Linked DNA regions of Homo sapiens. The protein of the gene in region 2 purifies or fractionates together with the protein of the main gene of each other region. This does not show direct contact. Each region holds a gene or a part of one and is shown on either strand. Other genes may lie near its edges.

Region 1 (3,816 bases), on a different chromosome or scaffold from region 2:
ACAAAAGATAAATGCTTGAGGGGATGGACACTCCATTTTCCATGATGTGATTATTACGCATTGCATGCCTGTCTCAGGGTATCTCATGTACCCCATTAATACATACACCTACTATACACCAAAAAAAAATAAGATTAAAAATAAAGAGACTACAACCTTGGATTTCACTTGGAGAAAATAGAAAAAAATAAAAGAGACTACAACTTATTGTCACAAAAAAAGAGAGTGAGGGGGAGAGAGAAGGAAGTGAGCAATTTGTAAAGATAAAAAAGGGTTAAAGGAAAGAGAGAGGGAGGGAGGAGGATGAGAGGGAGAGGATTTGAAGGAGTGGAAGTGGAGGAAGGGAAAAGAAGGAGGGAAAAAAAGATCATCTAAAAGTAAGAAAATACCCAAAAATGTCCCCCCCAAAAAAGAATTAACCAGGAAAGGAAAAGAGAGATTAGAAGGGATGAATAAGGGCAAGGATTGAGGCAAGAGAAATAAGAAACTAAAGGATGCAGGAATGGAATAGAAATAGAAGAAAAGGAAAAAGAGAAGGGAGATAGAATAGAACTAAAGGGGATAGAGGAGAAGAAAGAAAAGAAAGCAAAGCTTGAGGAAAGACCTAGAAGACCAAAAGGAAGAAGCAGCGTCAAAACAAAATAAAAATTGCAGGTTGGGGTTTGCAAGGAGAGCTCAAGGCTTCTTTCCAACTGCCTAAGTACCACAATACTATAGTGAGTTTATCCACGGCGTGAACAATTTGAACCCCACTTTCTTCCTGTGCTCTCATTTTCCCTGCCTTAATAAGAACTCCATTGGTGTCCTATAAAATAAATACTAAAATCACCATAGAATAAAAACGTGATGTCTTTGATAGTGAAGAATGATTGCTTATAAAATCCTAAATTAAAACACATTTTGTTTTGTTTCTCTTTATCAAGATATTGTTTGAAAAGAAAATGCTTACTTTGGAAAGTTCTTTCTCAAACTTCTGAGAAAGAACATGAGCTGTGAATTCCAAGCGTTCCACTCTGTCCACGGGAAAGGTGGTGTCTGGCAGGGAAACAGAGCACTGGCAGGTCCCACGGTCATCCACGGAGCCGGTGAAATTGGAAAACAACTGCAAATAATAACAAGTTGAACATCAATAACAAGCTGGAATCTGAGCTTTTGGCAACTGGAGTGACAGAAATTGGCTTGTCGAGAGTACTTACAGGCAAGTAAGTGGAGTCCAATACATAAATGAATAGAATCATAGAAACAAGCTAAAACAGCTTTGTTTTCACAGGTGGGGACCACCCAGCGTTTAGCCACATCGCCACTGGTTGTACGAAAACCACTACGCCAGCAGACTTTACCTAAAGGAAGATTCCCCATTCTCGAGGCTTTTTTTTTTTTTTTTTTTTTTTTTGAGACGGAGTCTCACTCTGTCGCCCAGGCTGGAGTGCAGTGGCGCGATCTCGGCTCACTGCAAGCTCCGGCTCCCGGGTTTACTCTATGCTCCTGCCTCAGCCTCCCAAGTAGCTGGGACTACAGCCCGCCACCACGCCTGGCTAATTTTTTGTATTTTCAGTAGAGACGGAGTTTCACCGTGTTAGCCAGGGTGGTCTCGATCTCCTGACCTCGTGATCCACCCACCTCGGCCTCCCAAAGTGCTGGGATTACAGGCGTGAGCCACCGCGCCCGGCCATTCTGGAGTCTTAAAGGAGATTATTCCTATCTCTATGCAAGGAAAGGGAAATAAAGAAGCTATGAGAGTGCTAAGTTTGAATTTCAATTCTAGCACTTGCTAGATGTGAAATCTCCTTAATTCTTAGTTCCTTCATCTGTAAAATAGAGATAACCTACTTCACAGGGTTGTCCTCAGTATTAACGAAGTAATGTGAGCCAAGTCCCTGGCACAGAGTAGGTGATCTGAAAATGTCACATTCTCTTTCCTTCTACTGCTCATTTTCTCTTCCTCACCTTCACCCCAACCCAATCCAATTCCTTTTCATCAGAATGAGGGAATCACCAAAGATGTGGGCTACAGTGAAAATATATGATGCAAATTCATATCCTCTCATCGCCTGGGAAATTGCAAATTAACATCCTTCAAAATGGGAACCAGCCATTTGTTAGAAAGTGAATAGCGTATGAGCTTGAAGGTTTTGTGCAATTTTTTTTAATAAAAGTTTTTTTCCAGCTTACCATTTGCAGAAAAAGTCATTTTAAAATATTTTATGTTCATTTAAGATATTCAGACTCACACTTCAGTGCCACCGCATATTTTTAAATGACACTTTTGAAAGATCCTGTTTTTCTTTTGTCCCCTTTGAACTTCCCCAAGAGGATCCCAGCACAATTAACATTTTTTTATTACTACTATTGCCTTACAGAGTAACCCTTGGCAGCCAATTTGCTGTGCCTTTTAATGATCTCATCTGAAAGCCAACCCAAAGCTCACCTGTGGAACATCAGCCTGAAGGGACTTTTTATGAAACCTCTAAGGAGACAGCAATGGTCTTCAGAGCCAGAAGTGACTCTGGCCATGTCTCTCAAAGTTCAGGTCAGCCAGCTGCAGGTGGTGTAATGGGTCCTGTGCATTTAATGGCCACCAACCTCCATAATGCCTGATCAAGCTGGGTCTAGATGCTTCTATAATGAAGACTTATTTTATCACTGGCCTCGGGGCCAATCAAGGCTTTTGCATCTAAGTTGTTTTTAATTTAATTTAAGTTTCAAGATGAGCAGAAAAAAAAAATATGTGTGTGTATCCAATCATATTTTTTATGTGTTTAGTCAAAATTTATTACCTTGGTCTCAATTTTCTTTTCCAATCACATCCCTACGTGGGAAACAGTTCAGGAGTAGGGAGGAGAAACAAGCAGATTTATGTCGAACATAGGGGTGGACAGCAGGGTTTGAATAGGGGAAGGGTCTTTGCCAGAGATGAATAAAGACTCGGTAAGATACACCAGGAACCTATCAGAGAGGCCAGCTTCCCTTGAAACCAGCTTTACTCATTTCTCCAAAGATAGAAAGACTCCAACTCAAGCATGCCAAGGCTTTTACAGAAAAGACCGACATATCAAGGACTTTTGAAGAAATAGCTTATTATAATAACAGTCTAGCAAAAAAAAAATCTTGCATTGCATTTTAACAAGGGGAGTTTAATTAGCTGCACAAACAGGGTTGGGCCATTCTCAGAGTTCTCTGAAAAATTCTGCCAACTCAGAAAACAGTGGATATCATCAAGCAATCTCTAGACAGTCAATTAGGAACCACTAGCTAACAACTTTTAGTCCTGAAGTTCACTTGAAAGACAGACAAGTAATTATGAGCCCTGCTGTCAGCCATTCCATCGGTTTCTATTGAACATCTCTGTCCCAAAGCTGTGGACTCCCCCAGCTTCCATCCTGCTTATCATCAGCCCAGCATGCTCAGCTGACATCAAAATGGTCCATAAGTTTGATCAGTGTCTCCCATTAGAGATATTTCTGCTCCTCGCATTCAAAGACAATGAAGCTAATGGTGATGAGTCTCTCTCTGCGGTGAATGCCCAAACTCTACATGAATGAAGCATGGGGGATGGGAGACAAAGACAAGAGCTTGTCCCCTTGGCCTTTGGAAGAATATGCGATTCCCCTTCTGTAGGGCAAATAGGACCCTGAGTACCTCACAAGACACCTTATATTGGTAGGTTTTCCCTAAGCACGTGTTCAATTAACATTTACTGATGTCTACACTATGCCAGGTTCTGGCTTTAGGGAGATGATTAAGACTCAATTTCTGCCCAGGAATCAGGCCCACTGTCACTCTGAAAGCCCTACTTGTTTTTTCAAACCAGCCTTG
Region 2 (3,816 bases):
TTCATCTGGATGCTGCGCTGCATCTACGAGACACAGAGCCAGAAGGTGGGGCAGCTGGCGGCCAGGGGCATCTGCGCCAACTACCTCAAGCTGACCTACTGCAACGCCTGCTCGGCCGACTGCAGCGCCCTCTCCTTCGTCCTGCATCACTTCCCCAAGCGGCTGGCCCTAGACCTAGACAACAACAATCTCAACGACTACGGCGTGCGGGAGCTGCAGCCCTGCTTCAGCCGCCTCACTGTTCTCAGGTGAGGCTGCCAGGCAAGGGGAGCAACAGGTGGGCCGGGCGGGCCAGGCTCGGAGGGCATCGGGAATGGCATCATGGACCAGGATCCCCCAGGACTCATGACCATGGCCCTTGGAATGTCCAGACCTTTTCTTTCTTAGCAGGGCAGAGGTCAAGGTGCAAAGCTTCGAGGCAGGTGGACCTGGATCAGCCACAGCTGGGTGCCCTTGAACAAAGTGCTTAACTCTCAGAGCCTCCACGCCCTCATCTGGAAAAAGAAGATGCTCATAATCCTATCAATTATGGCCACAGGGACCAATGTTAGTTGAGAATGGGTGAAGTGCATTACAAATATTACCTAATGGAATGCTCTTTACAACCCTGTAACTTAGGTACTGTTATTGTCTCTATTTTGGCAGATAAGGAAGTAGAGGCACAGAGAAGTTAATAGCTTGCTTTAGGTCACACAGCTCAGACATAGCAGTGCCAGAATGCATAAAGAACCTTCCTTTTAAGATTAATGTAAGGCTCCGAGATAGCCCTCAAAAAGTTTCTGGAATATGGGAGCTTTTATTACTGCAGAGAAAGCAGACCTTGTGCCAGTTGGCACTGGTGACTTTCTGTGATCAACGCTAGCAGCCCTTCACACTGCTAGAGACCTCAGTTAAAATGCTGACTCGTGGTTGTTTTCCTGTTCCATAGTTTACGGGAAACAGAGCCCAGTCTGTTTTCTTCTATTAGCATTTCCTATGTAAAATAAACCTTGTAAATCTCTACAGGGGGTTAAATTTGCCATTACTTGACTCATGCATTTCTAAAAAGCAGTAGGGATTTGGAACTGACTCCCAGTGCCTGTCACACCAGTGTCAGAGTGTAAATAATTGCATGGGGACATGGGGTGCAGGGGGTCGAAGGCTGCCCTAGCCTGGGAATTGGAAAACCTGGAGTCTGTTCTCTGTACTCTCAGCCAGTGACTCTCCCTCTGTAGCCCCAGGCAGTCTCACACTCAGTGCCACCCTCTGTCCATCTTTTTTTTTTCTCCCCCAAATGGAGTCCCGCTCTGTTGCCCAGGCTGGAGTGCAGTGGCGTGATCTCAGCTCACTGCAACCTCCGCCTCCTGGGTTCAAGCGATTCTCTTGCCCCAGCCTCCTGAGTAGCTGGGATTACAGGCACACGCCACCATGTCCGGCTAAGTTTTTTGTATTTTTAGTAGGACGGGGTTTCCCCATGTTGGCCAGGCTGGTCTTGAAATCCTGACCTCAGGTGATCCGCCCGCCTCGGCCTTCCAAAATGTTGGGGTTACAGGCATGAGCCGCCGCACCCGACCCCTCTGTCCATCTTTTCAATGGGAAACTCCACACCAGTGTGGTGGCCCTGCCCTTCCTGCTGTCCCCAGGTGAAGCTTTCCTTCACACCAGTGCAAGAAAAAACAGCTTGTAGGAAAGCAGAGGATATGGGTAACCACGGGAAGCACACTCAGTTCTCTGGCTGCATCAGTTAGGATTAGTTTTAGCTGAGAGCGAAAACCCCAAATGTTGGTGAGTTACAAGCTTATTTCTCTCATGTAAAAGTCTAGAGGTAGGTAGTTCAGGACTGGTATGGAGTCTCCATGACCCTCCGGAGCCCAGGCTCTCTTCTGCCTTCCTGTTCTGCCATCCTCACTACCCGGCTTTCCCATCTTGGCCCAAGAGGGCTGCTCAAACTCCAGCCATCTAGTCGACACTCTAGCTATCAGTAAGAAGGAAGGGCAAAGATTGAGAGCATGCCTCAATCTTTTAAGAACACTTCTTGGCTATTACTAATTATATTGCTGCTTAGATTTCAGAACTTAATGGTATGGGCAGAATTTAATGAGATGGGCCCAGCTAAAAGATGGGGGAATCTATTGCTAAGAAAGTATAGATATTGGGAATGTCTAGCAGCCTGTGCTGTCTTGGGCTGGCCATGCCATGTACATACACACTATTTCCCAGCACCAAGCTGGGGACTCTGAGGGAAAGGGTCCAGAGTGTCTGACTTGATCATTTTGATGTGGCCTAAAAATCAAGCTTTTAATTGTTCAGCCTTTTACTTGTTATCAAGGTCAGCTTGTGGGTCTAATTGGGCCCAAGGCTTGTGTTTCTAAGTAAAGTTTTATTGGAACGCAGCCATACCCATTTATTTACTTACTGGCTGCTTCACACTACACAGTTGAGTAGCTGTGACAGAGACCACATGGCCCACAGAGCCTAAAATATTTGCTGTCTGACACTTTACAGAATGACATGAGCAGTCTCCTTTGACAGTGGGACTCACAGCCTTTTCCAGTGACAAATCAGGGTTAGCCCATGTGTTTCTGGATGGGGGGAAGCTGTTGGCATTTTGGGTATAACAGTTCTTGTGAGACCTGTCCAGCATTTTGCAGGACACCTAACATCATTGGCCCTGCCTGCAAGATGACAGGGCACTCCCTCCTCCAGTCACAACCACTAAAAGCAGCCCCTGACATTTCCAAACCCATGCCCTCCACCATACGAGAACCAGGTACAGGGTCTGGCTGACACATAGGTCACACGCAAAGGGTGGATGTCAGAGGTGGCTGGCCTCACACGTCCTCCCTGTGTCCTTCACGGTCGTGTGAGGAGCCAGGGGCTGTGCTGCAGCCTCGCTCATGGGCTGGTGCAGGATGGGTCTGGCGGCCCCACGTTGGCCAGGCTTTGTAAGGGGCTATTTGGCTGATTGCTGTGGCCATTCTCCAGGGGCGTCTATACCTGAGAAAACTCCAGGGCCTGAAGGCTTCTGGATCTTTGTAAGATTAATGGTCCTTCATAATGAGTGCCTGCCCTGACTCGTAATTTTTTTGCTGTTTTATTTCAGACTCAGCGTAAACCAGATCACTGACGGTGGGGTAAAGGTGCTAAGCGAAGAGCTGACCAAATACAAAATTGTGACCTATTTGGGGTATGTCTTTCTCCAGAACACTGGGCCAACTACCTAGTAATAATACAGAGCTGCAGGGAATTCACATTCCCATAGGTCCCTGGATGATCGGCACGGATGGCCCAGGGCTGGGAAGAGCGCTGGCCCAGGAGTTGAGAGTCCTGGGTTCTCTTTGTGGCTCGGCCAGTCATGAAGTCTTGCTGAGCCTCAGCCTCCTCACCTGTAAAACTGGGATCCCAGTATAGGCAAGTAGGCTTACAACTGGTTATTGGGGGATGCAACGAGAATATAAGGGGATATATTTAATAAATGCTAGAATCCTGTTTACATATTAGTCTGGACTATTTTGGGTCCATAATCCCTCATCCAGAGCCTTTGGGGCAAGACCCGAATGGGGATTCTGAGTGCATGCTATGGCATGACGTGGCCGCAGGGGTCTAAGGCAGTGCCCCATTTTCAAACACTTTCATATTTCTCCCGCAGAATGTATGAAACAGTCAAACCAAGTGTGGTAAGAAAGACTATAAGTAGCTCCACATCAGTTGCCAAAAGAATTGTGAGAAACTTTGGGCATTCAGAGCCTTTGAGGTTTTGGAGTCTGAGAGAAGGGATTGCGGGCCAGCCCCACACAACTGGTGGCTCTGCAAGCTGGAGCAGTTGTTCAGTTTCTT

The links.
Region 1: the proteins of NOD1 (region 2) and OLFM4 purify together in Homo sapiens (co-immunoprecipitation; one study listed by IntAct). This does not show direct contact.

What each region holds. Positions count from the first base shown.
Region 1 is NC_000013.11:53,031,634-53,035,449, reverse strand, and holds part of OLFM4 (olfactomedin-4 precursor), read right to left. Parts: intron 1,103-3,816; coding exon 950-1,102; intron 1-949. UniProt on the Homo sapiens protein: May promote proliferation of pancreatic cancer cells by favoring the transition from the S to G2/M phase. In myeloid leukemic cell lines, inhibits cell growth and induces cell differentiation and apoptosis.
Region 2 is NC_000007.14:30,447,648-30,451,463, reverse strand, and holds part of NOD1 (nucleotide-binding oligomerization domain-containing protein 1), read left to right. Parts: coding exon 1-248; intron 249-387; exon of another isoform or gene 388-546; intron 547-3,082; coding exon 3,083-3,166; exon of another isoform or gene 3,167-3,172; intron 3,173-3,816. UniProt on the Homo sapiens protein: Pattern recognition receptor (PRR) that detects bacterial peptidoglycan fragments and other danger signals and thus participates in both innate and adaptive immune responses.